2 separate regions of the Homo sapiens genome follow, and region 2 is linked to region 1. The links come from fine-mapping of genetic effects on gene expression. A gene starts in region 1. The other region holds a variant in brackets. All regions are shown on one strand. Distances are between the middles of the regions. Region 1 holds the start of NCK2 (NCK adaptor protein 2). Region 2 overlaps NCK2 (NCK adaptor protein 2).

What was found.
Region 2: its variant is fine-mapped to the expression of NCK2 in whole blood (TOPMed, PIP 0.92).

Annotation. Positions count from the first base shown.
Region 1 is chr2:105,736,038-105,752,314 of GRCh38, reverse strand. It overlaps NCK2 (NCK adaptor protein 2), which reads right to left and starts at 7,403. Exons shown (of 5, transcript NM_003581.5): 1 at 7,177-7,403. RefSeq lists enhancers at 6,093-6,142, 6,243-6,312 and silencers at 6,683-7,072, 7,183-7,242, 7,433-7,752.
Region 2 is chr2:105,768,591-105,784,867 of GRCh38, reverse strand. The region is part of intron 1 of NCK2 (NCK adaptor protein 2); the gene reads right to left. Among named protein-coding and RNA genes, the nearest start is that of NCK2, 32 kb to the right of the region's middle. RefSeq lists enhancers at 1,468-1,968, 6,463-6,963, 8,074-8,183, 8,244-8,343, 14,630-15,132 and 1 more. The variant C/T (reference allele first, on the strand shown) is at 8,637.

The sequences.
Region 1 (16,277 bases):
TAAAAAGGTTACACCTTTCCCAGTAAAGCATAATAATAATGACCATTATAATTATTCTACATTGTTTCCACTTTGTCTCTTTAGCTATCTCAACTTTGGAAAACAGACAGCAAATGAGGCTTAAATCATGAAAAGTGTATAGACTCACACTCCGCAACAAGGCTGCCACTAGTCGCGTGTGGCCAAGGCCAATCAAAATGCAGCGAGAGGCAGCCAAGAGGTGCAGTAAACGTATATACTATATGCTGAATTTCAAAGCCCTCACGCAAATAAAAGAATATGAGTTATCTTATTAATTACATTTTATGTTGATTACACATAGAGTTTATATATATATTGGGCAAAATATAGGATGAAAATTAATAATACTTGTTTGGTTTTACATTTTTAATGTGGCTACCAGAACATTATGATTACATCTGGGGCTTGCATTTGTGGTTCACATTGTATTTCAAGGGGTCAGCACTGCTCTTGACAATCCATCAGTTCAAATGGCATTTGCAGGGAGACAGTCCATATTAAAACACACATACGCACCATTTTCTGCAGTTAGTCTCTTCTCCTCCCATGACAGAGAGCTGGGCCCATGCTCAGTTCCATGCAAAGCTGTAGTGGGGTAGCCCTGCCATTACTGCACAGGAGAACCCTGAACCAGTCCCAGTGGAGAGAGTCTTTAAAAACAAACTGATTATAAACTTAGTTTTGTTATCACAATTAGCAAACCATCAGTGGGTGGCCACAGATGACTTGTAGCTCAGCATGTGTGTATATGGGGAAGGGGATATTTAGATGCTGGGAGAAACAGAGAGGCAGCCCAGTCGTGCAAGCCCATGACTGCCATGCTGGGGACTTGAGTCACTGACCCAAGTACGATGGAGAGCCACCGTGTGCAGGTCATGGCCAGACCTGACTGTCAGGGTGCAGTCACCCTGGGATGGATTGGCAGGAATGGTTAAAAAGTGGTTTTGATGTCCAGGGGAAACAGAAAAAGGACAGCAGGGCTGAGATGTTAGATCTTTTGGAGGTAGAATCAATAGGGGTTGATAACTAGTTGGGAGCTGAGGGAGAATTCAAGGATAACCGAGTGAGTCGGTGATGGGGAATATAACTGAGAAGGCGGGCAGGTTGCAGGAGAAGCTGCAAATGGTTTGGGATGGTGGAAATGACCACTAAGAACTTGGATAATTCATATGAATGTGAATGAATGAGCAAACAAAGCATCAATGAACATACAGATCTGGAGCTAGAGGGAGGTCAGTCATGCAGGCATTGCCCCTGCCTTATGTCTGAACAAGGCAAAATGGCCTAGGTCAGAAACATTCCAGCCACGCTCAGGGTGCACCTCACCACCGTCATGCACATTCTGCTAAGGGATGTTTGCTCATGTGGCAAAGACTGCACGATCACAGAGATGGCAGGCTCAGAGGAGACGGCCTCTCCACCCTGGCTGCCATTGGCCCCACCTCTTGCTTTGCTCTCTTCATCCAGGGTTCAGAAAAAACTTTCCTTTGCATATCACTGATATTTTATCATGGTCTCAATTAAAGACAAACCAACCCCCAAATAAGTGTCTACCTACCTAAGTTGAAGAGAAGTTTCCATAAATGAAATCAAGTCAAGATTTTTCTCTCTCTTCAATCACTCTACTTAAAACCTTTCCAGCCTTTGGAAGGCCAGCACCAAGGCTTGTTCCCTGTTATGGGGTGCTACAACCAATATATAAAGAGCTGACGTTCCCTCCTTACTTGTGACTACTCTAACCATCCCTGGTAGGTGTCCCCAAATAAACAGAGATCCCAGATCTGGATGATGGGAGCACCAGGTCTTCCTAAAAGCATCAGCCCTGTTGTGGAACCTAGACAGACACACTGGGAGTGGCTGAATTGTCCACCCTAAATTCATATGGTAAAGCCCTAACCCCTAAGTGACTATATTTGGAGACAGGACGCTTCAGGAGGCAATTAAGGTTAAAAAAGGTCATAAATAAGGTTAAAAAAGGTCACCATAAGGGTGGGGCCCTCATCCAACAGGACAGATGTTCTTATAAGAGGAAGAAACACCAGACCTCTCTCTCAGTGCACTCACAGAAGGAAGGCTACGTGAGTGAGGACACAAGAAGACGAGCCAGGAAGAGACACTCACCAGAAACCAGCCCTGCCGGCCCCGGGGTCATGGACTTCCAGCCTCCAGAACTGTGAGAAAATAAATGTCTGCAGCTTTAGCCACCCATTCTGTTGTTGTTGTTTTGTGTGTGTGTGTGTGTGTGTGTGTGTGTGTTTGTTTGCTTTTGAGACAGGGTCTCACGCTGTCACCCAGGAGTGCAGTGGTGTGATCTTGGCTCACTGCAACCTCCGCCTCCTGGGTTCAAGCAATTCGCGTGACTCAGCCTCCCGAGTAGCTGGGATTACAGCCGTGAGCCACTGCGCCCGGCCTCTGTGTGTTATTCTCTTAAGGCAGCTGGAGCTGACTAATACACGCACTAAACAGGAATAAGCTTTCTGAACTTGAGGAGGCTTTCCAGGGTAACCCTGGCCCATAACCAGGATGTGGGGACAAGAGAGACTGACATTGCTCCTGCCGGCCTCCCCTCACACCGCTCAACCTCAGTCAACTCACATCCAGAATCTGCTCCACCAATATCTACACACAGCTGCGACACGGCAAAGGCAGATACCCAAGGACACTGTGTTCTGTAAACTGCCTCACAAAAAAACAACTCTACCCAGCAACACGTTGGTGTTCCTCATGTATGGCCTGCAGAAGGACTTAACCTAAATTCAAGCTCTGTCATCCCCAGTCTCCTACCTAGAAATGAGGGCCAGAACCAAGTGCACCATGTTATTCGACTATTAAATATGATGGTGTATGTGAAGAGGACTTTGCAAACAATGAATGAGCGTGCATGCATTAGTACATGTCATTCTCTCATCATGGCATTTTCGGTCTTCACTAACAATTTGGCAACGTAAGCACCCCAGCTTCCAAAATTGTCTCAAAAGAAGCAACTGCAATACTTAAAATTCTGAGTGCACTTGAAGCTTCTTCTCTTAAAAACATTACCAATACAACAGTAGAAAGAAGGGGTGACACAAATAACTAACTTACCAGGCCAGGATCACAAACGGTCTGCCCAGCGTTTTGAATTCAGGTTGATAGGAACAGACTAACCTACAAAAGTAAACCATTCAGCCAGCCCACCAGGTAATACAGTTGAGTATGGGGTTGGCTTTGTTTTTTTGTTGTTGTTGTTGCTGTTGTTGTTTTTAAATGTAGCTTCAGGACTACAAATGACTCACATGACAGAAAATTTGCCAAATAGAGAGGCCAACAGACCAAATTCTCCCATTGTCTGGACATCCTGAGGTCAAAGCCTTCCACAGTAGACAGAAGTTCTGAGATTTACAAGAATGCTGGAGGTCTCTTACCACTTGAATCTCAGTGGGAGGCTAGAGCCCCAATATTAACAGGCTGGGCACTCATTATTCACATATTCAATAAGTATTTGTTGCACACTCATTGTGTATAAGTGGCAAGACCAGTCTGCCCCCAAGCGGTTCAGAATCTAGTAAAGAAAAGATGAAGGCAAAAAAACCATAGGGCAGGGTATGGTGGCTCTGGCCTGTAATCCCAGTACTTTTGGAGGTCAAGGCAGGAGGCTCACTTGAGCCCAGGAGTTTGAGACCAGCCTTGGCAAAGCAGCAAGACCCTGTCTCTACAAAATAAAAATAAAAATAAAAATAAAAAAATTCACTGAGCATGGTGGTGCACACCCGTAGTCCCAGCTACTCGGAGGCTGAGGTGGGAAGATTGCCTGAGGTGGGAAGATTGCCTGAACCCAGAAGCTCGAGGATGCAGTGAGCTGTGATCATGCTACTGTACTCCAGCCTGGGTGACAGGGTGAAACCCTGCCTTAAAAAAAGAAAAAAAACAACTGCAGGAAAGAATGTCACAGATGACAAATCAGGGACACAAAGAAAGTGCTGTGGAAGTTTAAAGATGATGCCATCCCCTCTAGTTTGGAGTTGATAAGATGTGGGGAAGAAAAGAAGTAAGAGACGACCCTTGGGATGAGTAAGAACTCAGGACACGGAGGAGACTGAGCCAAGGAGTTGAGAGGGAACACAGAGGCTGGTCAGGGACAGTGACACCGTATGACATCACTGTGACACTGCTACCTCAATCAAAATAACTTTCATTTCCACAGTTTCAAGGACTAAGATTCTTGAGGTAGGAATGTATGTGCCAGTACACATGTGGATGTGTGTCACTGGGCAGAGGTAATACTTGCTAACGTTCATTTACCTTTAGAAATAAACATACTTTGGGAAATGTTCAAAGGAAAATGCAGGAAAAGAAAAGAGTCTAATTTTTTAATTGTGCTACTAAATGGCCTAAAGAAATGCAAAACTGTTTTTGCTTTAGCTGCACACTTTTGATAGCCCGTTAAAAGGCCGTCACGACCTTCTTCTGAGTTGCCTTAACTCAGGCATGGAACAAGATACACGAAATCACATTTTAGCTTAGGCCCTTTGAAAACGTGCCGTGAAGTATTTCCATCACTCATTTTAGGAAACAGAAACCATTTGGAAGTGCCACTCGCAAACCCTCTGGATGGGAAAACTAATTTCCTAAGCATCTGAAGTGAGCTGTAGGGAGTTTCCAGTTCATTTGTGAAAAAAGTTAGCTTACTTGTTTTTCCAAACATCACTCATCATCCTCCCCTGTAGTTCCAGCAAGCAATTCTGAGCTCTTCAGTCTTTAAGCCTCATTTTTAATGTCAGAGAATGATTTCCGCAAGCCCTGTCTCCCCCAGTGCACACGGCAAGCCAGTTTGAGCAGTTAGAAAAATGGGTGTCCCATAGAGCCTCGCAGCCTGGTCTATCCAGGGCAAACTAAGCTAGTGCAACTGATCAAGTAAAGGACTCCAGTGCATTCTGCGCCATTCCGGGAGTCTTAGGGTATTTTAAAAGGTTATCCAGTCTGTGCACATGCAAGGAAGATTTCCGGTGTATTTAATATGGATGGTAGTGCATTTCTCAAATATAGTACTGTGTACATAAGATCTGCTGTTTGTTGGAAAAGCTAAATAACCGAAAATGTAAATGACAAAGCCTGGGAATATGGCAGGGTCAAACAGAGCAAGGATGAAGAAGATTTAAGTATGCAGCGTGTCCTAAGCAAAACACAAAGCATGAAAACTGAGCACAGCCACCTGCAAGGCACCTTCAGCAAGCCCGACGGTTAACAGGGTCAGTTTCTCCACAAGTGGACAGAGGGGGTTATGCAGCAGCCAACTCTTCCTGATGGCAATTTGTGACCCAATTTCATCCAGTGTTTCATGACCAACCCCCCTGAATGTTTATGAAGCAGGAAAGAAGCTCAGAATCCAGGCGAGGCCTCCGGGACAGGAAGTGGGCCAGGCACCTCCACAGCTTCCTATGCCTAAAGTTCTCCATTTCAGCCTCAAGTAGCCGCCAGAAGACCACTAAGATTCCGCCACCTTCTCCAATCAAAACTACATCTAACCAACCTCCAGGGCAGAATATACTGAGGTAGGATTTTCCCTCGTGTTCACTTCTTCACAAGCAGGTTAACACTTGCTTCTCAGGAAACCCCTGTTCCAAACGTCAAAAAACCTCCATGTCTAGCCCAATCTCCAGGTGAAGTCAATTTCTTCTCCACGTGTCCGATGACTGCCATTCTCTTTACGTAAAACTCGCAAGGCTTGAATCCTGTTACTAATTCACCTGCTTATCTATGAAGCTTGCAAAGTGAATTGAGGGAGTGTTCACACGCACAGTTCCGTTTTGGTAAGTTAAAGCGGCCCAGGTTAATTTCATTTTCAGTCACTTTTGAGACTTGATAACTACATCTAAAACAGAGGCATGAAAAACACCCTGAATCACTTTCATTCCTACACAAAATCCCTTCCGAGAAGCGGGGACTGCGCCTGGGCCAGGAAGGGACTCCCCTACCTGTAGGTCCCAGCAAGCCACGCCCACCGGCCTCTCAGGGTTGTTTCTTTCTGGGTCGAGGGACGGAGCTGGCCCTTGCGATATTTTAGGCCCCCTCCTGCCCACACTGGGGCCTGCTCATCCCATTATGCAGATGCAAACTTGGCAGAAGCAGCCTTAAACCTGTTGGCAAAATAAACAAAGCCAAATAAAGAGGAATCTGCCAACCTGAATTGTGTGAAGTGGCCAAGGCCGACTCCACGCACGCTCGGCTTTGTCCCTGAAGCTGTTACAATACTAGTTTAAGTCAGGTGCCTGGGGTCCACCAGCCAATGACCCCTAGCATCCACCGCAGACCTTCACAGAGATCCCCATTGTCTACAAATTAAAGCGTTTTGCAAATTAAACCCCTCCACACAATGCCAAGCTAACTGTGCTCATAAGGCAGTTACCCTCCATGCCTTAAAACTCACATATCAAATTTTTCCAAAAGCACTCGGTGATTAAATCGCCCTGAAAAAAACCGAGAGAGCCGAGCGATTGTGAGAAACTTTGGTTCATTCAGGTGGCTGTTAGAGTCCTGTAAATCTGGGGCAGGGCGCAGAGCCTGAAGCCGGGCACAAAAGCTCCCTTCGCCGAAGCGAGGACCTCCTTTATGCAATGTGACAGCAGCTTTGTGCGCGAACATAAATAGTTGTAATAAACACGGTTAAGTTCTCCCGGCCGATCGCGGCCTCCCCCGTCCCTGCGCCGGGGCCCTGCGATCCGCGGCTATTCTTCCCCGGCACACGCGCCCTGGCGACCCTGGCCACCGCACGGTCCCACGCTAGCCCCGAGCTCCGTGCCGGCCGCCCGCCTGCAGGCCAGGCGCAGCCTGCGCACCCGGGGGTCTCCAGTCCCCGGGCCCCGCAGCCGGGCCCCCTGCCCTGATCCTCGCCCGCGCCCTTGGCTGGCGTCCCCGCCCCTGGGCCGGCCCCCGATGGTGGGGGTTAGGGATGGGAAGGCGGGCAGGAAGGTGCAGAGCCGGGAGGTGCCCGGCAGTCCGCGGTCGGGGGCGCCCAGGCCGCGGCAGGGCCGAGAGCACCGGAGGGGCGCGGAGGGGACCCGCTCTCCTGGCCCCTTCCCGGGCGCACCCCGGCCCGCGAGCCCCGCCGCGCTCCCAACTCCGCCCAACGGCCCCAAGTTTGTGGCCCCCGCCCCACGCCCGCCTAGCCGCGCTTACCTCGCCGTGGGCCGCCCGCGGAGCCGGAGGGCAGCGGCGCGGGTCCCGGGGCGGTGGCCGCGCTGCGCCCGCCCAGGCGCCGCTCTTTGTCTGCGCCGCTCCCTCCTCCCGCCGCCGGGCGGACGCTGCCGGCCCGGGCGGACCCTGCCGGCCCGGGCGCCGCGAGCCTCCCGGCCGCCAAGCCCTCCCCTCCGCCCGCCGCCCGCTCGGCCGCGCGGCTCCGGCCTGACGATCCCCGCGGCAGCGGCGGCGGCGGCGGCGGCGGCGGCGGCGACCCTCCCCCGGCGCGCAGCGCCCGCCTCCTCCGCGCTCTTCCTCCTCCTCCCGCGCTCCTCCCCGGCCGCGCCGTGACGCCGCCCAGGGGCCGGCCCAGGCCCGGGCGCGCGGGGCGGGGACCCGAGACCCACCTGGGGCGCCCCCCGTCGTCGCCAGGCTCCGCGCCCGGGTCCCGGTACGGGCGCCGGGATAGCGCGGGGCTGCGGGACGCTCCGCTCTGGAGGCGCAGCACGGGCCGGGCGCCGGGGGCAGGAAAGGGTCCCCACGCCCGAAATTGCGTGCGGGCGGTGGGGGGCAGGGTAGGTGGGTGGGGAGGAGAGTGAAAACACAGACGGCAACTTCCAGCCTGGGATGACTGCCGGGTGGGCTTTGCGTCCTCTTTTTTGTTTGTTCGTTGTTCTTATCACGAAGCTCTAGTTGCTGGGCAGCCGCCCCCCTCCCGGAAGCATTCCCACGGCACTCAGCTAAGCAGGCCTGTTGTCCATCAGAAAAGTGACTTAAATAAAAATGTCACTTCCTCCCTGTAATTGCTTGTGGGCATTTTTATTTATTTGCTTTGCATCTATTTACTTTCCCAACCAGACACATTTTTAGTCCATCATCCCTGTCCGAGGCACTTCCTAAAAGAAGAAGAAACTCGACCTCTGTTGCCTCCCAGGCATCCAGGCCAGCCCCAGCCTGTGGAATCCTGGTTGCACACCCGTGGGGGCAGAACCCGAAGAGGAGCTGCCCGAATGTGCCCCTAGAAGGAGTGTCGCTAATGATGGGACCGTTCAGCTCACCCAGCCTCGAGTTGTGGCTAGCCTATAAACAAACTTGGAAGATGAAAACCCAAGAGCAAGGGGAAAGACACAAGTTTCCCTTTCACAGACACATGCATCCGGATGTCTTTTCTCCTCCCCATATGGTTTCCCAAAGGAAATCCTAATATTCAAATGATTCTGATTTCCTGGCAGGATAGCCTGCATCCATGTTAATGAGATTCTTTCTTAGGCTCCTGGTCTCTGCTTACTATTAAGGCAATAATAATTTACCCAAGGTTACAAGGCTGTATTATTTGATTCACTCATCTCCTGCTTCCTTCCAGAAGGGAAGTACCCAAGGATAGGTAACTAGAGTCAGCGTAGCTTTGAAGTCAGACAGGTGAGTGTTTGACTGTTGACTTCCTGAACTGTGTAACGTTGCACAGGTGGTCCTCAGCCTTTCTAAAATCTGTCATATGGGGAGATAATATTTACTTACCTCCTATGTGAAGTACCCTGGCAGTAGGTAGCCCTCAATAGCTCAGTAAGTGGAAGGAAGCACAGTACACTGAGCAGGAATCAGGTACAAGCTCAGGGAATCAGAACAGCCTCATTTTTCCTTGTTTTGACCTTGTGAAAGAAGCTACTTCAGTTCATCCTTTTGTGCAAGTTTTGTGTTACTAATATCTAGCTTTACAATAAGAAAAGAAGAATTCTAGTCATCAGTCTGCCCAATTTTAGATTAATTTACTCAAAATAAGTATAGCAATATTGACCCAGTTTGTAGCTTGTTTGCTTTGTAAACTTTCACTGAATCGTGGTTCTTGCATGCCTCTTCTTTCTCTGATTCTTTAGAAGTCACCGATGTCATTCTCTATCTAAATCCAGTGGCCCTTTATCAATCTTTATCCTGTGGAGTTTTCTGAAATATGTGGCATTTCTGCTATTTCCTGAAACACCATCATCTTTTCATTCATCAAACACAGCCAGTTCTGATTCTCTTACCTTTCTGACCTGCCCATCTGCCTCCTCTAGAGAGGTTGTTGTCTTCCCACCCTGTAAAAGTGATATCCCCAAGGCAGATGGTGGCCCTTTGTTTTTATTCTGATACGCACCTTTTTTTTTTAAAGAGAGAGTTGATTGTTTTTTGTACACTCCCTGTCTAAACCTTCATTGATTAACCCCCAGACCTGTAGCCTTAGAGAGCTCCCCTGCTAATCTGCAGAGCTCCCCAGCTAATCTGCACCCCCTAAACATGGCGCAGCATCTCTTCTAGGTCACCATGTTCAAAATGAAACTCATCTGCTCCCCAGACCAGCTCCTCCTCCCATGGTTTCAGGCCTGGCCAAGAGTCTACCAGGCACCTCAGCTCCTGGGAGAAATCTCATTGTTATCTTGGCTTTTCCTTCCCTCTCTCCGAGTTCTCCCCAAGAAAAGCTGGGAGAGCGCTGAATGACACCAAGACCCCTTGCAGACTACCCCCATGGTTCTGAGTCCTGGTGATTCTTAAACATCTTTTCCACTGCACCTTTCTTTCCATTTCCATCACTGGCATCCTAACTTATACATCATTCTAGCAATAGTTATAATGTACCTTGATTGAATTCTTGACATATATCATCTCTAATCCACACACAATAGTATTATACCCATTTTACAGATGAAATCACTTGAACAGTGGATCAAAGAACTGGGGTCAGAGCATGTACCTGACTCCAAAACTCTTGTTCAATTCCCCACAACTACTGCCTTCCAACTGGTCTCCCATTACTTCCTTCTTAAATCCCTCAGACTCACACTGGACATCAATGTCATCCTAACCTTCCTGTAAATTGTTTCCATTTGTCCCTGGTTGTGCTCAAGAACTTCTCATGGCTCCCCATTGCCCACCACAGTCTCCTCAAAAGTTATCTGATGACTGAAGACTGAGCATTTTCCCCCAGAGAGGCTGGGGTATTTAGCCCTTAGAGGCCTGTGTTCGTTTCCTGGGGCTGCCTTAACAAATGACCCCAAACTAGGTGACAAAACAGAGGTTATTTTCTCAAAGTTCTGGAGTTCAGAAGTCTGATATCAAGACACCAGCCTCTCTCCAAAGTCTGTAGAGAACAATCCTTCCCTGCCTCTTCCAGCTTCTGGTGGCTGCAGACATTCCTTGGCTTGTGGCAGTGTCACTCCCACCTCTGCCTCTCTGTCTTCACACAACCTGGTTCCCTGTGTCCTTTCCCTTCTCTCTTTTTGTAAAGACAAGTATCATTGAATTTAGGGCTCACTCTAATCCAGCATGATGTCATCTCGACATCCTTATCTTACAACATCTGCAAAGACCTTTTTTCCAAATAAGGTCGCGTTCTCGGCTTCCAGGTGAACATATCTTTTGGGGCCAACATCCAACCCACTGCAAGGCTTAACATGGGGGAGACATTTCTTTGAAGCTTATGTTTTATCTAAAAATATATAGGTTTTTCTGCATTCTACTCCATTAATGTGTCCACATCTGTTTTACTGTCTTCAATCACAAAGTATTGAAAGCATAAAAAACATGGAGTGGAAGGAGGTGCAGTAAACTTTTGCCTAAAATCACATCAGCATTACATCTTATGATCTCTCTTCCAAAGGCCTCTCCAACTTAGCCCTGCCATACAATCTCCTTTTTACCTCTGTCCAGTATAAGCTGTTTGCTTCAGTCACTCAGCTCTGCCCACAGTGCCACATTGAGTCACACTAGTTTCAGCCTTCTGTGGTGTGAAGGCAGCTAGGAATTCCCTGTCCCCGTCCTTCTCTTTCAGAGCTCCATTCAAGGCCTTCTCTAACCCCTCCTTAGACTCACGGAAAACACAAAGCAAGGTTGAGGGTGTTGTCCAAGTCATACGTCAGAGGCTCAAAGCCTACCTTGGAGCCTGTGCCTTGGGGTCATTTCACCTCTCTGAGCCTCAGATATTAATAGTGCTCTTGCAAAGCGTTGTGAGAATTAAAGGAGATAATATAAACATGTCTCAACTGTGTGTTCAGCACATGGTAAACACTCATGTCTCCTTTCTCATGACCTTCTCTTGTAACCCTCAATTCAATTAAGCATATCTGGTGTAGTTCTATTTGTAAGGCATTATAAGATCCACTTCAGGATTCATTCATTTGGTGCAGACACCAAAGAACACCTGGATGTGCAAAGAGCAGATATAAGATTGCATTATTCAGAGAGGTTATAACGCAAACTGGAGTGGAGTGAAAGGATGGGAAAATAGTTTAGGAGAAATGGAGAGGAAAGACCCAAAAGGAAGGATGAAACCAGCATACAAATAACTATAATATAAAACTAAATATGAACAGTACCAAAGAAAATATGTCTAGAGAATCAGGAGAAGCTTTAGGCTTTATGAAAGGTGGTGGCATTGGCAATGACCTTGAGAGATTACATGGTGGGAAGCTGCCTTTAATTTGGCTGCCCCCCTCTCTAGCCCCTTCCTGGTTTTAGAGAAGCCTGTCTGAACCCTGGAGGGAGGCAGAGTAGGCACCTTGGTCCCTCCATTCCCAGAAGCCCTGTGAGAGTGAACAGCCTGGGATTGGCCAATGGAACCCTCCCACTCAAGACTGTGAAACTGGAGAGGGTGAAAAGGACAAGAGAGGGTGAGATTCAATTTGCCATGGCTGAAATAGTCCCAGCACATCCCTCCCACAGGAATTAGCCAGCTCCATTCTCACCCCTTCTGCTCTCCAGTTCCCCTGTGAGCTACTTGATATTCTTCTAGTAAATTCTCCTATTCTGCTTAAGGTACCCAGAGGCACTTCCTCTTTTTGGAACCCAAACCCCTGAATAATGCAAATGGTAGGATTTTGAAAGGTGGAGATAGACAGGGAGAAAATTCCCAGCGGCAGGAGTTCAGAACTCTGAGGCAGACAGGGGGACGTGGGAGGACCCTGTAGGGACAGAGAATGGCCCACTTGCCTAAATGGAGCAGAGGCTGCACAGAGCGGATCGCGAGGCCAAGAAGGAAAGCAGTTAAGTGTGGACATCATCTGGGCTCAGCCCAGGAACACTCATTTGGTGCATGCACGGAAGGACAGCTGGAGACAGGAAGAGCAGACAAAAGTTCGCATTTCCAAGAGAGTTCATAACCCCAACTGGGGTGGAATGAGTAGATGGGAAAGTGTTTTAGGAGAAATGGAAGGGGAGGCTCAAAATGAATTGGCAGCTGCTTGGATGTGGGGGACCAAAGAGAAAGAGAATGGGGCACAAATATAACCTGAGGCTTTGGATGTGGGAAACTGCAAAGACAACGGTGCCGAGATCAGAAACAGAAAAGTGGGGAGGACTGGCTTGTGAGGGATGAACGGTTTTGTTTTTGTACATTTGTTAAATGTAATGAATAGTTATTGCCAACTTACTACATGGAGAGGGCACTGCAGGAGGTACACAAATGAGCAAGCCACAGTTCCTGCCCTCACGTGCCTCTGTGCTAGAAAAGTTGCTATTACTACTATAAATACCCTGCTGGAGTAATGAGCCTATTGCTCTTTAATTGTATCATTCATCTCAGCGTTGATATGAACGCCCTGAGGGCAGGAGCCAAGCCTGGTTTTCCTGTACAGCCCCGACCATTCTCCGGCCTACCCAGTACAGAACAGACACTTTGCAAATCTTTCACGATGGATGGAAATTCCACACTTACGAGTGTGTCAAAGAGGACAGAGAGCATTAGTGAAGAGACTTAAAAAGAGGCCATTAGGAACTCGCTATGAGAATCTCAAAACAGATACCGGTGGACGTATAGATTTTTGCATTTCATTTCACCTACATGAAAACATGGGGAAGAGACGAGTCTTAAGACGGCACGGTGATTTCATACCCAAACTACAAAGTACCTTTTCACTACCTCTTCAGACCCAAGAAGGGGCAGCTTAGAAACACATGAAACCCATCTCTCAGTGACTGGCAGGATTAACTTTTTACAAACCACCACTACAAAGAGTTAAAGTTCATAAACACCCCCCAAAAAAGTGGGCTGTCCTCTATGGATGATCAATACGATTCTCCTGCCTCTCTCTAAGAATTGTGATCTGGACTTCAGGAAGTAACTATGCTTTATCTAATTGTGTAAATAAAGGAAAAACAGATGAAGTAACACTATAAAGTTGAATGTAAGTTAGGGTATCAAAAAAAAAAGGAACGGAAGTGCACTTAAACACCGACCTGTTTTTCAGTATGTGTTTTGTCAAACACTTCCTGTGGTGATCAACGTTACACATCATAACTTTAAAATTTAACAGGTGCTTGAGCCGAAAAATAAAAATGATCACAATTTTACATTGTTTTTGATTGTTAGCAGCAGGGTAGAGTTAGTTTCAGATAGGAACAATTTTAAGAGAGCTCTGTACCTTTAGAAAAGCTAAAATTTTACGCAAATTGCCATTTTGAAATCCACCTTAGGTGAACATCATGGATGAGACATTTATGTTAGCTACAATAACCCTCAATTAATCAGAATGCCTCAGGAAGGAGTTGTTTTGCTAAATTAAATTTTCGTGTTGGTTAAAGATCAACCAGAAATTCCCTTCAGCTGGAACATAAATTGAAATTAAAAATATATGTACGTATATTGTAGGCAGATATCTCACCTTGGAAAGCACAGTACAGTAAATGAAATGAGTCCCTTTTTGATGTGGGGTGCCTCATAATGTCTCTGAGTCATCATTCTGAACATGCATCCTCATTTTATAGTGTTAAGTGTGTAGAAGATTGAGTGGAAGAATCTGTACTAAGTCAGAGCCATGCTCAAATTACTTTTTAAAAAGTTAATAAAATTTGCTTGTTTTCCTGCATTTGCTACCTTTTTCTGAAAGTAAAGTGCTGAGCAGGAGATTGCCATTGAGTGAGGGCTCCAGTTACTTACAGCCTAGTCATTCAGTGCTTACTTGCATGTTTTAAAAGGGAAGACTTCTAGCAGGAGCGGTGGCTCATGCCTGTAATCTCAACACTTTGGGAGGCCGAGGTGGGTGGATCACTTGAGGTCAGGGGTTCAAGACCAGCCTGGCCAACATGGTGAAACCCCATCTTTACTAAAAATACAAAACTTAGCCAGGCATGGTGGCACGTGCCTGTCATCCCAGCCACTCGGGAGGCTGAGGCAGGAGAATCACTTGAATCCAGGAGGTGGCGGAGGTTGCAGTGAGCCGAGGTCCTGCCACTGCATTCCATCCTGGGCGACAAAGTGAGACTTCATCTCAAAAATAAAATTAAAAAAAAAATGAAAGGGAAGACTTCTAAAATATAAAGCAATTCTCAACTAGAGTACTGGTAAGTGGGATGTTGCTTTTTTTAAAATCACAGTCTTCACTAAAGAACAAATAGGTTAATAGGAAGATATGTTTTAGAGACACTGTAACATAATCTCTTTTTCACTCTGCAGTGCACTGGATGGCTTTCTCCTGTGAATTCAATGCAAATCCAGCGGAGAGTAGGCTGCATTGAGGAATAATCCCGTGTAGCTTCCTGTCTGTGGTCTGCATTGCCTTCCCTCCCATCCATGATGCTATAAGCTCTCTTTCCTTGGAGTTCCTCTCATTCTCCGAAACTCTGCCGGGGCGTATAGCCAAAAATGCCTTGTTTTCTAGTAATTTATGTCCATATGATATTTTAAGATCATAAACTGATTCAGGACAAAATTATTATTATTATTATTTTTTTCTTGGAGATGGAGTTTCACTCTGTTGCCCAGGTTGGAGTGCAATGGCATGATCTCGGCTCACTGCAAACTCCACCTCCTGGGTTCAAGTGATTCTCCTGCCTCAGCCTCCTGAGTAGCTGGGACTACAGGCACATGCCACCATGCCCGGCTAATTTTTGTATTTTTGGTAGAGATGGGGTTTCACCATGTTGGCCAGGGTGGTCTCAAACTCCTGACCTCAAGTGATCTGCCCGCCTCGGCCTCCCAAAGTGCTAGGATTATATTATAGGCATGAACCACCAAAATTATTTCTTTGACTTCCCCAGAGTATCTCACTGACACCTCATACAAAGTTGGCAGTTAATGATGATTCTTGAAGGAAAGGCGTGGGATAAAAATATACTATTTACAAATAACATTTTTAAAATGCAAATGGGTTTAGCTACATATCATTGTAAGTTTTTATTATTAACACAATAGTTGTTAATAGCTATCATCTGTTGCATTCTTACCACTGGCCAAGCACACTATCTAATCCTGACAACCCCAGTGAGGGAGGCATGAAGGTCCCCATTTTATAGATAAGGAAACTGAGGTTGAAAAGCTTTAAAAAACCTGTCTAAGGTCACAAAGCAAACAAATGGCTGTGATTTCTTTCTCATGATGTCTCCTACAAATATCTAATATTGATTTACAAAGTATCTGAGAAGTGCAACCATGATCAATAAATTGCACTTATTTTAATATCCTATTAAATCACTTTCATGTTGAGAATTCTTAACAGTTACTGATTTCACCCATTTTACTCTAGTTTTATCAGACACTTCCCATGTCTGCATTGGGCCAGGGGCCTCAGGGCATAGGGAGGTGTTAGAGAGGACTGACACCTTTACCTGCAGGGACTCTGGAGAAGTGACCCCTCCTGAAGGCCAGCACTCAGAGCCACACTGGATGGGGTATTGTTTCCTATGACTGTCGTAGCAAGCCACCACAAAGTTGGGGCCTTAAACATCACAGTTATGATCCTTCAGTTCTGTGAGTCAGAAATTCAACCCAGGTCTCTCTGGGCTAAAATCAAGGTGGCAGTGGGGCTGTGTTACCTTTGGGATGCTCTAGGGGACCATTCATTTCCTTGCCTTTTCCAGCCTCTGGAGGTCACACACACTCCTTCTGCGACGGCCTTTTCCTCCACCTTCAAAGCTAGCAGCGATGCGTCTTTTCTGATCCTGCTTCCATTTCTGAGTCTCTCTCACTGCAGCCCGGAAAGTCACCCTCCCTTTAGGACTTGTGATGGCATCTGGACAATCCAGGGCTGTCTCTCCATCTCAAAGTTTGTAGCCTCTACAAAGTCCCATTGCCATGGAAGGGAACATTCACAGGCTCCGGGGTTGTGGGCAGGGGCATCTTTGAGGGGTCATGA
Region 2 (16,277 bases), 33 kb before region 1:
TTACTCGTGTATCCTATTCTGTCAGTATCTGAGGACACACTCTTTGTGCATATTCTAAGAATGTTGAAATGGGAAGTGTGGGAAACACGGGCCTGGAACAGTGGCTGCTGAGGAACGGATGGACCTCAACAGACACACTGCTCCTCCAGGGGCAAGTTTGATGGTGTTATAGTTTTCACTAGACTAAATGAGAATCTTTTATGGCAAGCATTTGTAACTGCCTGCCTAACCACAGACATGCTCAATTTAAATGTGATTATTATAGAAATGATAAAAATGCATTTATGCTCACCTACATTGTAAAGACCTGAATACATCTCTACATTGTACCCTCCACAAGCGAGGCTCCACATAGTGGAAACACAAATGTATCTTGAATTTAACATGCCCCTTCACCTCAATATAACCAGCATCAATACTTACTAGCCTGAAAGGCTGTTTTAAACAGCTTGACATGTAAGCAAATTAAACTCTCCCCTCCCGATTCACCCCAAGCCCATATGACCACCACAAGGAGTCCGATCAGCAGGTGGGAAAACTGCTCCCCAGAAATGCCACTGGGGTGAGAAAAGGGATGGCAACTTCCTATTAGAAATAACAGCCGGGCGTGGTGTCTCATGCCTGTAGTCCCAGCATTTTGGGAGGCTGAGGCGGGCGGATTACTTGAGCCCAAGAGGTAGAGGCTGCAGTGAACAGAGATGACGCCACTGCACGCCAGCCTGGGTGACAGAGGGAGAGCCTCTCTCAAAAAAGAAAAGCTCCCAGTGACGCTTTCCTGAATGAAAATGAATTTCATCACTGCCAATGCCACGCATGGTGTTGAGGCCAACCAGGTGCCACAGAAGGGACCTGCCGTCCAGCTGAAGCAGGTCCTGCTGCTTACTCAGTGACCTGCAAAGGCAATGGCACTCTGTCTTCTGCAGAGAAAGGGTGTTTCATTTTCTCGTGCAAATTCCAAATATATCCACATTTCAGATTGCTACAAGGCAGTACTATAAAGGGAGAAGCGAAACAACTCCCACTTTCTGGGAAGAAATGCCCTTGTTTCCAGCTGCAAAACCCTCTCTGTGGGGAAGCACACTGAAGTCGCTCAGGAACAGGCCACCCCTCTTGGAAAGAGTGGAGGTCATCATTTTTCACCTATTAGCGAAAAAAAAACATAATCTGAATACATTTATGTAGGGCTATTACCCAGAATATTTACAGGGTTTCTTCGTGCTAAGGTATTTCATGATGCTCAGAGGAACAAGGTGGAAAAAACACACCATTATTCTCCGCGAACGGCTGCCTTCCTAGTAACTGCACCCACGGTGGCAAATACTGCACATTAACCTGTGCCTTGGTGGTGTACGAAGCTTCCCACAAGCAGGTGAAGATGAAGAGCTAAGTCTGGCTCAGACAGGCAACGCTGCATCGAGCTGTTTTTACTCTAAATAAAAACCATGTTCCACGCGGGCCTTCACGGTGCTACCCCAGAACACGGGCACAATTTAATGCCTCACTCCGAGGAAGGAAGCTCAGGGAAGTCTCCTCTAGTGACTCTTAGAGGCTCCCCAAAGGAGGAGGGCGATGGGGGCCCACCCAAGCTCTAGCGAGGCTACAAACAGCACGCAGAACATTCCACTGCCATTACTTTCCATCTTCAAAAGATTACATATCATCTTAAAGAAAATTCAAGGTTAAATTGGCTTCCTCAGCTGCTGCGGCAGAAAGCAAAGCAGTGCTGCAGAGAAAGTTAAACCACCTCCCAGGGCTCTGGCCTTCTGCAACTCTTATTCTAAGGCAGCTTCCCCATCTATCTTGTTCCACGGTTATATCCCAGGTACCCAAAAAGGCTCTGGCCTTAAGGCTTACCTGTTGCAAATGATAGTCGACCAACTCAGCTGCAAATGGGGCTTGTTATGACACCGGAAATAAAGGTGAGGCTGCCACCCTCTTCGCCAAGCCGGTGAGCACAAGTGTCTGGAGTAACTGCCCCCTACGCCTCTCCAGTTGGGAGCGTTGGGGACAGTAAGTGAGTACTAGTCACTGGAAGCCAGCTCTGAGAGGCAGGTGCTGTGGCTGCCAGAGCTGAGCACAAGCCTAACAGCCTTTGCAACCTCCTCTTCTCCCCGACATCCACTTCGCCTCTACAGGCAGCTGCAGCCCATTTTGCCAAATGATTTCAACGGGCCGGATCCCCCACTCTCAGAAACGATCAGGTTCTATCATTTGACGTTGCATGAGGAGAGCTAAATTAGCCATGAAAACAAAACTGCTCTAACAAAATAAAAAGTACTAAAACCACATACTACCTATGCATGGAGTTCAAGAGTGAGAGGATGAAAACATAAGACACTTCACATAGCCAGCATTCCTCAAGTGAGATTTTGTGTAGAATTTAAAGTAACTTTAATACTTAAGAAAAGAGCGTTCATTATATAGACTGTTTCTTCTCAAGTCCTCAAATGGCCATCAACCCAACTCTGACACCTGCTGTGGAGAGAGTGGAACTAGTTTTAGGGAGATTTTTGGTGGCAGAGAGAGAAGGCAGATCACTAATCCCCATGGGCTGGTGGAAGCCATCAGCAGGATGTGCCTGATAATCCATCCATCTACACCAGAAGGAAGGGCCACCCTGAGTCCCTGGGCCCGGCCACCCCGCCTGCCTACAGCCAGACCAGGAGGGTTGTCCCCTTACTCCTATAAAGAGAGGGGAAAGAGATGATCGGTGATAGGCTCCCACTCTCGCGGAAGCCCAAAAGCAACTTCCCGCAGTCATAGTAAGAACAGAGTAAGGAAGGAATGGACCTCAAACCTGGGAAACCAGGTCTTTGTCTAGGAGCTCCTCCCTCAGCTTGAGGGACCTGATGGGCCGCAGGTTTTCAGGTAATTTGGACTCACTTGGACATTCTCAACTTCATAGTCAAGAAACTGACAGCTGTATGTACCTATTTCAGTTAAAAGCATTTACGGCAAGAAATAAAGAGGGAAGAATACATATGCACGTATACCAGTTCATTCAGCAAATGCCTAATGAGCATCACTACGTGGCCAGAGTCCTTATCACAGACTCATTCCAACTGGAGAAACAGACATGTCTACAAATTTTCGTACTGCGGAGAGGCGACAGCTCTGTCACAGACAACATAAATTGCAGGATTATCACTTGCCAAGCCACAGGCTCTGTACTTTTCATGCATTGCTCTTTATTATAAACCTAACAACTACCTTACAAGACTGCTATTTTCTCCATTTTTCAGATAATAAAACTGATGCACAAAGACCTCTGCCAGCCCAAAGTCACACTATGGCAATGGCAGGTCATGATTCATGCCAGCAAACCAGATCTTAACTGCTAGGCTGTACTGCCTTCCAGGAATGAGTGCAGAAATATTACGAAACAGACGTACATGGACTAGAAGGCCAAGGAGGGTCACTAGTTCTGGCTGGGGGAATCCTGAAGGCTTCAAAAGGGAGATTGCATTTAGTCAAGTCTTGCAGTGTGGGAAGGGATGAGTGGTGGAGGTGGAAGCGGAGATGGGAGAAGGCTGCCCCTGTGTCAGCAACAGGACCTGCAAAGGCACAGAGGTGTAAAAAGTGCACGGCTCCCTTGGGAATACCTAGAGTAATCATGTTCATAAAATTCACAAGGGCTGAATGGTAGAAGGTGGAGCAAAGATCAGATTTTAAAGGTGCTTTGACAACACAAAGGCACCTCTAGGAAATGGGAAGCTAATAGTTTATAAGAAGAGAAGTAAAACAATTAGATCTGTATCTTTGAAAGCCAACCCCGGAATAGGTGGGTGGGAGGGAGAAAAATCTGAAAGCAAGAAGACAGGAAGACCACGACCAGGTGAGAGACAAAATCTAGATTCGGGCAATGAGAAAAGAGAGGGTCACTTAGTCAAGGCTGGGTGACTGTGGTAGTCCATTTGGCTGGCTGTAACAAAATACCACAGAATGGTGGCTTATAAACAAAGGAAGTTATTTCCCACAGTTGTGGAAGCTGGAAGTCCAAGATCAAAGTACCAGGAAATTCAGTGTCTGGTAAGGGCCTCCTTCCTGGTTCCTACACGGCGGCTTCTTGCTGTGTCCTCACATGCTGAAGGGGTGAGGGGGCCCTCTGGGGTGTCTTCCGTAAGGAAATTAATCCCATTTGCAAGCGCTCCCCTCTTACGACCTAATCACCTCCCAAAGGCCCCACCTCCAAATACCATCACCTTGGGGGGTAGGATCTCAACATATGAGGGACACATTCAGACCACATCAGTGACCAGGGGCTCTGACTGGTGACTGATGTTTCAGCATAATTACAGACAGCACCCCTCCCACTCTCAATAGTGCCCAGGTATAGATGACAAAAATGTGGTTATCACTTTATTCAACATCTATATGGATGTGACACAGGACATGAGCGAGAAGCAGGATTTGAGGATGAACATTAGAATTTTAACCCAGATACCAAACGAAAATGAGAGAGCCAGAAAGGGAGAGAGTATGTGTGTGTGTCCTTTAGATGAATGTGTGTGTGTGTGTGTGTGTGTGTGTGTGTGTGTGTGTATATATCTCTCTCCCATATTATGGAAATAAATGTGACAGACATCTAAATATTTATGACTATCAGGTCCCAACTTAATCTAGATGCTGAGAAGCAATGGTTTTATTAATAGAAATTTCACTTTAAAAACCTTCCAAATATTCTACAATAAATATTTATTATTCTTGATTAATCTTGCAACCAGAAATTTTAAAACAAAGGAAATATGCTTCATTTCTAGTACGTCCAAAATATGCTCAGTTAAAATAATGCCATTGAATAAGGTAAAGGCAAAACTGGAAAAACGGAAATTAGAGTAGTTTATGAAAAGAGTAGAATTGAATTAAATAACCCAAGGAAGCACACACAGGAGGTCTTGAGAATTCGCTGAGCTGTGAAGTATGTGGATATGTACACGCTATCCTGAATGAGAGGGTGAAGGCGGTCTCGTAGGCTATGGCATTCAGGCTGTTTTCCCCATATCAGTTTCTCCTTCCTATAACTAAGGGAATTAATCCATCATACAGAACGTGAGGACTCTACAAAGCTACATTTCTGCTAGGGAATTACTATGTATATGTATGTGAGTGTGCGTTTTAAATCATGGTCTGACCAAGAGGCTCAATTCAAAAGCTGATTAGTGGGAAAAAAAAAAATCAAAGCTCTTTCCTCCTCTCCTCCACCTGCATACGTCTCCCGTGGGCGGAGAGCAAGCTCTCCTTTCCATCTGCCCACAAGGCCAAGTGTAAAGCACAAAGAATGGGCAGTCCTTTTCAGGTCTGCAGCCAGGAGGCTGCACCCAGCTCCAGGAAGCCAAGTTCAGCTGGACGCAGCCACCCACCACTTGGTAGGTGGCAGAGATGCAGCCATATTCAGACAGACTGAAGCTCTATATATAACAGTCACATGGCAATCAACTTAAAGTATCCCCTTTAGTTAATTAAAAAAGATTAAAAGCCTCAAGTCTAGGTGTTTTCTGTTTTCTTCAGGAGTGATTTTAATAAACACATTTTATGACGGATTCTTTTTTTTTTTTTTTTTTGAGACGGAGTCTCGCCCTGTTGCCCAGGCTGGAGTGCAGTGGCACAATCTCGGCTCACTGCAACCTCTGTCTCCCAGTTTCTAGCGATTCTCATGCCTCAGCCTCCAGAGTAGCTAGGACTACAGGCATGTGCCACCATGCCCAGTTAATTTTTGTATTTTTAGTAGAGACAGGGTTTCACCATGTTGGCCAGGCTGGCCAAAAACTCATGACCTCAAGTGATCCACCTGCCTCAGCCTCCCAAAGTGCTGGGACTACAGGTGTGAGCCACTGTGCCCAGCCTTATGATGGATTATTAATGAAAATTATTCTCAATTATTTGTTTTAACATTTAAATATTGAATTTCCAAGTTTAAAAAAGATATTCTTAAAGCATATTCTTAAAGCTCTTGAAAAAAAAAATAACCATTATCTCAATTAGCCTGGTATAGTGGTGTGTGCCTATAGTCCTAGCTACTTGGGAAGCTGAGGCAGGAGGATCACTGGAACCCAGAAGTTTGAGGCTGCAGCGAGCTATGATCACACCACTGCACTCCAGCCTGGGCAAGAGAGTGAGATCCTGTCTCTACAAAAATAATAAGAAATGAAAGAAGAAAAAAATAACCATTATCTCAATTGATACACATAACCAGTGCAGTAACAAGGGCATGATTTCCCAGCCTAAGGAGGAATGTGCAGAAACTCCAGTTAATAGGGGCACCTTTGGTTCACGCAGCCACCAGCATCCTGCATTACTCTGTGAGAGTTAACTCTGCCGGCAAATCCCCATGGAGAGGCTGCCCAGAACCAAGGGCTTCTTCCCTCTGCCATCACCGCCCTTCCCTGGTCCCCATGCACACAGTGTTAAGGGCAGGTGTGTTCTTACACACCACCACTTCCCACGCCACAGAGGATGGTCAGCAGATGTGGTCAGAGTGGGCAGCTGACCAAACTGGGCCAAAGCAGCTCTTTCCTCAAGGCTAGAACACAGAACAGATCCTGAAGGCTCCAGCCTCTGCTGGAGACACATGCCTCCAGGATGTTGGCAAAGGTCACTACCACATGTGCTGGGATAGGGACGGCCAGTCTGTAATGTGCAGAGGGATAGAGCTGAGAGGCAGGGGGCTTTCTAGGTCCCCAGTCCCCCTCTAAGCCCGGGACCCAGTCCCAGAGGCCTGCCAACATCTCCTTCACAACACATCTTGTCCTTAGGACAAATTTCTCTCACTTCACAGAGCTCAATGGGGTTTCTTTTACTGCCACTTTGGCAGCTCCTCCAAGCACAGCTGAAGAAGGTGAGGAGAAAAGGCAGGTGCAAATAAGGGAGCTAGGAGAGACTCACAAAGTCCAGGTCTCAAACAAAAGAACTTTCCATGACAAGAAGACAGGCAAAGGCTGAACGGCTAGGCGAAACCAAGGTGCTGCTGCTGGAATCCTGTGAGCTGTCACCCCAGTACCGATCCTCTCTTCAATACGAGCACAGAACTGCAAAGGGAGCTCGGCATTTTCAAGATGCACGTGTTTGTTTCCTGCTTGACAGGAGCAAACAGTTCCTACCAGGGCTTCAAGTGGTCTGCTTCTCCACCCACAACATATGCACCAGAGAACCACAGTGTCCACAGTGGCTCTACACACAGGACCTTGATAGGAATTGTGCGCATTGGTGTCCACAGACTGTTACCCGGAGAACAGCTGCAACTGAAGTCATTTATAGTCATTTCCACTGGCCAAAGCAGGTCATGTTAAACTTTTCATTTGTTTTGTTTTTCCATTTTGGTGTGTGGGTATAATCCGCATGATTATCAATATCCCATTTCCATTGATCCATACAGAAAATGCACAGCACCTACCACTCTCCACCCACGCCGTGCCAGGTGGTGAGCACTGGGTCATTTCATTCCACCCACACTCTCAGGAGTCTGTGTGCAAGATGTGGCCTCCTGGTGTGAGGACTGCCCCAGCCCTCCTCTGTACCTGAAAGCTACCCTTGCCAGCTGGATTCTGGTTAAGTTCTGTCAAAGACACAACCAGGTGCAACATTAAAAGGCAGGAGGAAGGGCAAAGCGTTGCCCCCCCGCAACACCCCGGCTCGTGGCTATGGGGACAGCAGGTTCCTAAAGCAGCAGTGACGAGAGTAGAAGGTTCCAGCTGCCATCGGTGGAGTGCCCAGTGACAGCCGCAGGGCCGTGGGCTCAGAATTCCTGCTCGGCGGCAGCAGCAGTGAGGAGAGCACCTGCTCTCAGGCTCTGGGAACTCTCAAGGCCTCATTTTGCCCTTCAGACCTAGGGACAGCGGCAGCTTTCTTAGTCTCTGATCTCTGGGGAAGATGCCTTTGGCTGTCCAGCCCTTCACACTCTCGTGAAGCCACTCCCCATACTAGATTCTGCCTATATGAAACCCCTAGGAGGTTTCCATTTACTGAGAGAGGCTCCAAGGGGTCAGGAAGAACCCCAAGGCCAGAGGAGAGCAGAGATTATCTGAAAAGTGAGGTCAGCAGTACTGACTACCAGAAAGAAACCAGAGGGCTATGGTACCCTCGAATAGTCACGTGTGGTCCGACTGCTAAAGATCCCTGCAGCCAGGAGCTGGGAGCCCGGAGCCTGGACTAAGTCCAGCCCTGCTGGGATGGCTGAGCTAAAACGAGGGAGGCTGGCTGGAGGAGGAAGGTGGCTTGCTAGCTGGCATCATCTGCTCACCAGCTAACCCTAAAAGAAAATCCACAAGTTCCTTTTTCTGATCATGCTCAAAATGTCATAGAGGTCCCCTGCCAGGCCAGGGGACAACCCAAGGCTGGCAGCATGCAGGAGCCCTCCACGGGTGGGTAGGCTAGCAGATGGCATGGCACAGGAAGCAGCCCCCAACCACAGCTGGGTGACTGTACACCCTGGAGGGCGGCCACCCTGTCCCAGTCAAATGGGCCCACCTGGTATATGCATGGTGACAGGGGTTCTGAACTCCCTCCCCCAAACGTGCTTTGGCTGCTTCCAGAAGATGTTGAAATGTTAAGATATTTGGAGGACTTATAGAAATAAAGGGCAAAAGGTAAGAAACTGAGTGTTACAGAAAACCCAGGATGTACGGTTTCTGTCGCTGGGA[C/T]GGAAGTTGGGGTGTCCCCACCCAGGACACTGTAGCAACGTACAGGAAGTGGGAGCGAATGGCAGGGCAGAGCACTGAGATTCCTAGGGGAGGTCCCCAGCCAGGCATGGCCTGCTCCGCACCCACACCCCCAGAGGTGGCCTGCAGTAAGGGACATGCTCCAGGCCACACCAAATTGGGCCAAACCAAAATACAAGGGGGACATTTTTTCAAATTATTTCCCAGGTGGAAGTCATTAACTCCCTAAGCAACTGACGGTCAACAATTATCCCTCGCACTGTTTTTTTTGTTGGTGGTGGTGCTTTGTTTTGGTTTTGGTAACCACAAAATCAAAAAGGAACTTTTTGATGACCAGCTATTCCAAGTTTCTCATTTACAGATGAGAAAATAATGAGCCTGATTAGTGCACAAAAACACAAATACACATTAAAAGAATCCAAGTGAATCAAGGTAGCTCCCAAGCTCACCACACCGGGAGGTGTGGTGCTCCCAGTGATGCCAGCCAGGCTCCCAGGGTAGGAAGGAAAAACAAACAAACAAAAAGGAAGCTAATTTTCAAACAGTTGTAATTAGCTGATTATTCTTCACTTGAAAGGTTGCATGAAACAAACAGCTCCTTTGTCTACAGCAGAAGCTGTAGACAATTTAAGTTAAGGCATAAATTCATAAATAATGTTTAAAACCCAAAAGGAGATAAGAAAGAACACATCAATGTGCTACAATGACAACTGAAAAAAATAAGCAAGTCAGAGGAAAAATGATTAAGTTCAAACAAGATCAATCTGAAGTTAAATTTTAAAAACTAAATTTCGGTTAAAAATAATTATCTATCTACCTGGAATCTGAATAATCTAATAGGGAGCCCAGAGATCAGGGAAGGGAATGAGGTGAGTTAACTACTGATGTCCAGTGACAGGCACACCAGGATTCAGGATTCTTAAATTTTGAAATTTCCCATCATGAAAAATTAAAAATCCACAAAGAAACAGGCAAATTCTCATTGATTAGGCACCCACATGCCACACACAGTGCAAATTACTTACAACATGACTAACACGTAAAAACCACCCCTCAACAAATACCACTTATTACTATTTTTTAAAAACTAAAGTTTAGCTAACATCAGATGACAAGGTATTCAGACACCATGGTGTGACTCAATTTCTACATGAATCCATCTGGTAATTATTATTATTATTATATTATTATTATCATTGTAGAGACAGGGCCTTGCTATACAGCCCAGGCTGGCCTCAGGCTCCTGGCCTCAACTGATCCTCCTGCACTGGGATTACAGGCATAAGCCACCGGTGCCTGGACTGGTAATGATTTTAGAAAGCGTTTTTTCAGCTGTACATCTACACGGCTCATTAAGCCACATTTCTTTCAACACATAACTCAAAAAGAAAAGTGGCTTTATAGATGATACCCAGTACTCAGTGTCCAATGAATGCTTCACAAAAGTTACAAAATAAACGTGAGTTAAAAATTGAGTGTACTTGTGGAACACAGATTTCGTCATCCAGGCCCCAGACAACTTGACACCTCCTCTCCCTACCGCACCACAGAGTGGACAGGCCCCAACAGCCAGGTCTAGAGTTCGTTGTGTGTGTGCCTTCCCCAGCCACATGACCAGACCTGCAGTGGACACCTGCCCAAATTGAGACGATCAAATCTGACTCTGGGACCCAAATACATTGTTCCAGGGGCTCAACACACCAGGGCCCAAGGGGTCCATTCACAGGGAGGGCCACCAGATTCTGACCAATACATCAATTTTATTTTTGCCAACACAGAAAATACTGAGCATCTGTCAGACCAGTCAGACCATCATCACACAGCCAAGTTAAGGCTTGCTGTAAGGGCTCAGCTACTGTGAGGAGGACTCAGGTACCTAAAACATCTGTTACTAAGATAGCTGGAGGCTGGGCACAGTGGCTCACACCTGTAATCCCAGCACTTTAGAGGACTGAGGCGGGGGGATAACTTGAGGTCAGGAGTTCGAGACCAGCCTGGCCAACATGGTGAAAACCTGTCTCTACTAAAAATACAAAAATTAGCTGGGTGTGGTGGCACGTGCCTGTAGTCTCAGCTACTCTGGAAGCTGAGGCATGAGAATTGCTTGAACCTGGGAGACAGAGGTTGCAGTGAGCCAAGATTGTGCCACTGCACTCCAGCCTGGGCAACAGGGCGAGACTCCGTCTCAAAAAAAAAAAAAAAGATAGCTGGAAAAATCCACATCTTCCACCTGAGGACTTCCAGATGCACACTTCATTTTGGTACCTCTGACATCTTTCTTATAAACAGAGGGTTTTGTCTTGTTTAAGGCAAATAAAAACAGTTAAAGAAAAGACTGCTGGACTACCCAAAACACTGCATAAGAACAAAAGACAACAGTCCACACCACTACCGATTCTCCAGGCAGCCTGCCAGACACAAGCTCAGGGGAGCAAGCACTTGGGTGCTCCTTTTCCACCGCAGGATCACCAGGGCCTGAAATAGCACCTGGCTCAGAGTAGGTGCTCAAATAGTTGTTGAGTGGGTGACTGCTGCTTCAAGTCTTCCAAAGAAAAAATATCCATAAACCAGGATGCTCTAGCATATAAGAAATGAACCATAGTGTCAAAGGGATACTATGGTATTGGGTGCTGACAGAGGACTGGGGAAGGGGAAGGAAAGACATGAAGTATGAAGCACAGATGCCAGACACCATGGGGTCTTTCTATGACACTGAAGTTACCTGCCCAGCAGGTTCCAGGTGCAGTGGTGATGGCCCTGAGCTGAGCATGTGGGAAACAAGGAGGCATTCCAGGGATGAAAAACCAGCATGAGCAAAGGTGCATGGACTGATGGAGGCCGGCACGTGTACCAGACGGCGAGAAGACAGGTCTGCCTCAAGCGGGTGGCTGGAAAGGAGAGGGACAAGGGGGACTAAGCCAGTGTTAGAGGATTCGAGAAACAACTGCAATTGCTGATGTTGGTTTCTTAAAGAAAAATATCCTTGGCACTCACTGGCAAAAAGGTGAGTGACGGCCAGATGGTAGGTGGCTCATGCCTGTAATTCCAACACTTTGGGAGGCTGAGGCAGGTGGATGGATTGAGGCCAGGAGTTACAGACCAGCCTGGATAACACAGTGAGGGCCTGTCTCTACAGAAAAATTAAAAAAAAAAAATTTGCTGAGTGGGGTGCTACACACCTGTAGTCCCAGCTACTAAGGAGGCAGAGGCAGGAGGATTGCTTGAATCCAGGAGTTCAAGGCATCAGTGAGCCATGATCACACCACTGCACTCCAGCCTGGGCAACAAAGGGAGACCATCTCAAAAAAAAAAAAAAAATGTGGACACGTGGGATGATGTGGGAGGTCGCCAGGAACACACTGTGAAGGAAGGACCAGGAGACCTAGATGCAGGGCAAGGACAGGGAGGACTCTGGTTCCCAGATGAAAGGAAGCTGCACTCACTGTGAAAATGGGAGGGGAGAAGAAGTCAATTCCAGAAAGAAGAGTTTCGGGGAAAAACTCTAGTAGGAGGTCACTAATGCCTCTGAGCCTCCCTGAAGTCAGAAGCACAGTGTTTTTGTCATTGACTTATTCCCATGTCCTCTGCAATAATGACTGCATGCTGAGCCAACAGTGACAGGCAAGTACTGGCTCAATGTTTAACCCAGCATCAGTAACATGCGGCTGACCCCAGTGCTGCGGAGGGAGGAGGACCAGAGATCCGGCCACTTCTGGAGAAGCACATCTGTGAGGCTAGATCAGCTATCTAAAAGGCAGGACATCAGGTGGGCTAAAGTGAAACCCAGGACTATGCCCACATTCCCCGGGAACAAAGAAAGGAACATTTTCCTTTTTCTAGGTTCTTATCCTGACCAAACACAGGCAAATGGGAAGGATGCTTAGTGCTGTTTATTCCATGGGGCAGAAGGCTCTCCTTTGGGAATAAACAAATAATGAGCTGAGCCTTGAGAAAGTTAAAAATCAACAGTCTAAATAAATCTATGGTTCTCAAACTCAGGGCCAAAGAGATCAAGAGTTCCCAGGAGGCTCCGAGAGGCTGTTGGGAAGACACCGGTGGAAACTGCTAACACAGCATTCTCAGCCTCTGCAAACGCTACCCCCTCCGCCATCCTTCAGACACTGCCCTCGGCTGAGCCAGGATCGGCAGTTCCACAGGCAGGACGCAGCTTACAAGCTGAGTTCTCAAAGACTCAGAGCTGAAGAGTTCCTGGACACTTTGACGACAATATCCAATTTTGAAGGGTGTCTGGGAGGGAGTGGAAAATGAGGCCCTGGAACAGCCCTGGGAGGGAGGAAGTCAGTCTGAGGAAGCTTCTGGGAACAGCTGCGGAGAAAAATATAGATCTGAGTGATGGGCAGGCCTCACAAAGGAATGGCAGCTTTCACACCAGAGGGTTTTTACTTCAGACAGAAGAAAACAATGGTTAGAAAAAGCTGCCAGTAGCGGTCAACCCAGGTACATGCTTTTTCTAGAAAGCTTTATGAACTCAAAGCAAATCTCAGTAGCCTCTATTTGAGAAACATCAGCTTTAAAAAAGCTGCCTTCTATTGATAAGAAAAGAACATTACTTTCTACCTAAGTGACATGATTAGAAACAATGGGAAACTTCTTGAAATATTTGTCTAAATTAGGTCTTTCTGTTTTTGAGAGGGAGTTCCACTCTTGTCGCCCAGGCTGGAGTACAGTGGCCCAATCTCGGCTTACTGCAACATTCACCTCTCGGGTCAAGTGATTCTCCTGACTCAGCCTCCCAAGTAGCTGGGATTACAGGCGCCCTCACCACACCCAGCTAATTTTTATATTTTTAATAGAAACGGGGATTCACTATGTTGGTCAGGCTGGTCTTGAACTCCTGACCTCAGGTGATCCACCTGCCTCAGCCTCCCAAAGTGCTGGGATTACACACGTGAGCCACCCCGCCAGCCCTCATGTTTTTTTACTAGAAAGTCAGAATGGAAAATATAAAAGGGGATAGAAATAGTGATATTGGGCGGGGCGCGGTGGCTCACGCCTGTAATCCCAGCACTTTGGGAGGCCAAGGCAGGCGGATCACGAGGTCAGGAGATCGAGAGCATCCTGGCTAACAGAGTGAAACCCCGTCTCTACTAAAAATACAAAAAAGTAGCTGGGCATGGTGGCGGGCGCCTGTAGTCCCAGCTACTCGGGAGGCTGAGGCAGGAGAATGGCGTGAACCCGGGAGGCAGAGCTTGCAGTGAGCTGAGATCGCACCACTGCACTCCAGCCTGGGCGACAGAGCGAGACTCCGTCTCAAAACAAAAACAAAAGCAAAAACAAACAAACAAACAAAAAGAAATCATGATATTAACATCAGAATTGCCAAACACTGAAGATTGAAATGATAAGCAAACTGAAATGCCAAACTGTTTAACCCAAAATGACTTCCTGGATCTGAAATACTTTAAAGGGGTAGAAATACATTTTCAGAAGTATTATTTTTCTTGACCTGTTAAAGATCTTTAAGTTTAAAATAATGAAAAATAATTCAGATTACTAAATATCGATATCCATATCCTAGGCAATATAGCACTCTGTGATTCACACAAGAATCAAATCCGAATCACTGACCTGATCATTTTACAGATCAGTGGTCTGTTTCTAGAGCATATCTACACACTCTAAAAATGACAGATATTCTATAGCCTTCTACTTCTAAGAAAATGATTTTAAATATGATCAGTTATGTAAACACACATTCGCATACACACACACAACCTTACAGTAAGTTTCAGGCCTTCTTAGTTGTAAGAAAAGCACTGTACTTTTTAATCAGGACACATAAATCTACCTCTCAAAAGATCAAAGCCAGATGCAAACATCATCCTTTAAAAAGATCTCAGCATTAGATAGAGCCACTAAGTTTACCTCTAACTGGAGTCACACTGTAACAGAAATTTCAATCATGCTCTTAAAGTTCAAAGAATTCTGTAGAAAAGAATTCTGTCCAGAATATTAACATTTTTTTGAAGTCTGATTCTTAGAAATTCCTTTAGCAACCACACCCCATGTCCACAGCACCATCCTTTTTCTTGTTGCAATATACCTTTTTCTTTTTTTTTTTTTTTTTTACTTATTAGTGCTTTATGTTACATGAAATTAAGTGCAAAAATACTTAAATAATGCTGTGTGCCAGGCACCACTCTCAATGGTTTGACTCACTGTACTCTGCACAATCACCCATTTTCCAGTGAAGGAAATGGAGGCACCAAGGGTAAAGTAGCCAGCACAAGTCAGACCTCATGGCGGGGCCAAGGCATTCTGGCTCCAAAATCCCGAATCAAAAAGCAGAAGGTCAAAAAATTAAAAACAAAGAAACATCACACACGGAAGGAGGAGAGGCCAAAGATTACTCCGAGGGATTAAAATCTGAGTTTTTCTCCGGTTTACCTTCTACAACTCCTTTTACTGACCACGCCTGACACACTGACACATGCATTCCCTGCCACAGTGGCTCCTGTGGCCGCCTGGCTGTACTGCACAGTGCAACTCCTCAGGGCGGAAGCTGCGTGGACCCCTGGCCCTTCTTGGCCAATGACTCTAATTACCCCATGGTTCCCTCCAGAGGGCAGTGGGCAGTGCAGTAGGTCACCCACACGTCCCATTTCTTAGAAAACCTGCAGCCATGGATGCCTAACTTCTACTGTGGAGTTATTCTTCTGTACGTTATTATAAGTAGAGTCACAATTTTTGTGCTACATTTAAACATTTTGTATCTCTAAGCTTCCTTAGAAATGTTACTATATTTTTCCTACATTTGCTTCCTGAGAAGCAAGAACGGGGGAGTTACCAGCACAGTGAGAGTCATGATTCGTCAGACCCAGGGTAGAAAAGAATGTAAAATAGGCACGCATCAGCTGTTTTACTGAGAGGAGGGCTTTAAATAGGGCGCAGCCAGCTGGGGATGGGGAGGGGAGGGGTGGGGCGGGGCAGCAGGCTGACAGGGCTGCCCAGGTGGATAATAAAAAAGATCTCTGGTCTTGGTCCCTGGTTTCTGGCATAGAGCTCCTAAAGCCCTTGGTATTTACTGAGCAACAAGAGTGCCCTTAGTGATTCATAGAGAGCCCCAGTGCACCACACCTGAGCTTATGCTAATGAGGTGACCAGTGGGGTTGGGGGGTGCCCCTAGATAGCCTGGAGGGGAGCTGGTCATTGCCAGAAAGACAAAACGTGTGATTAGAGAGTGGGAACTTTCTGCACCCCCTACACCCCAACCTCTGGGAGGGGTGGGGGGCCAGGAGACTGGGCTGCAAAAACTCTTGAAAAATGGGATGTGGGGAGCCTCCACGTCATGAACTCATTGGGATGGTGCACTAGGAGGTGTCTCCCCCAGGGGGCATGGGGACTCCCACCCCTCGTCCCATGTGTCACTTCCTTTGGGCTGTTCCTAAGTTGCATCCTTTAAAACAGGGGTGTCCAATCTTTTGGCTTCCCTGGGCCACACACACTGTAAGAATCATCTTGGGCCATACATAAAATACACTAACATTAACTGCAGCTGATGAGAAAAAGAAAATTTCAAAAAAAACTCATCATGTTTTAAGAAAGTTTAAGTATTTGTGTTGGGCCGTATTCAAAGCCATCCTGGACCGCGGGTTGGACAAC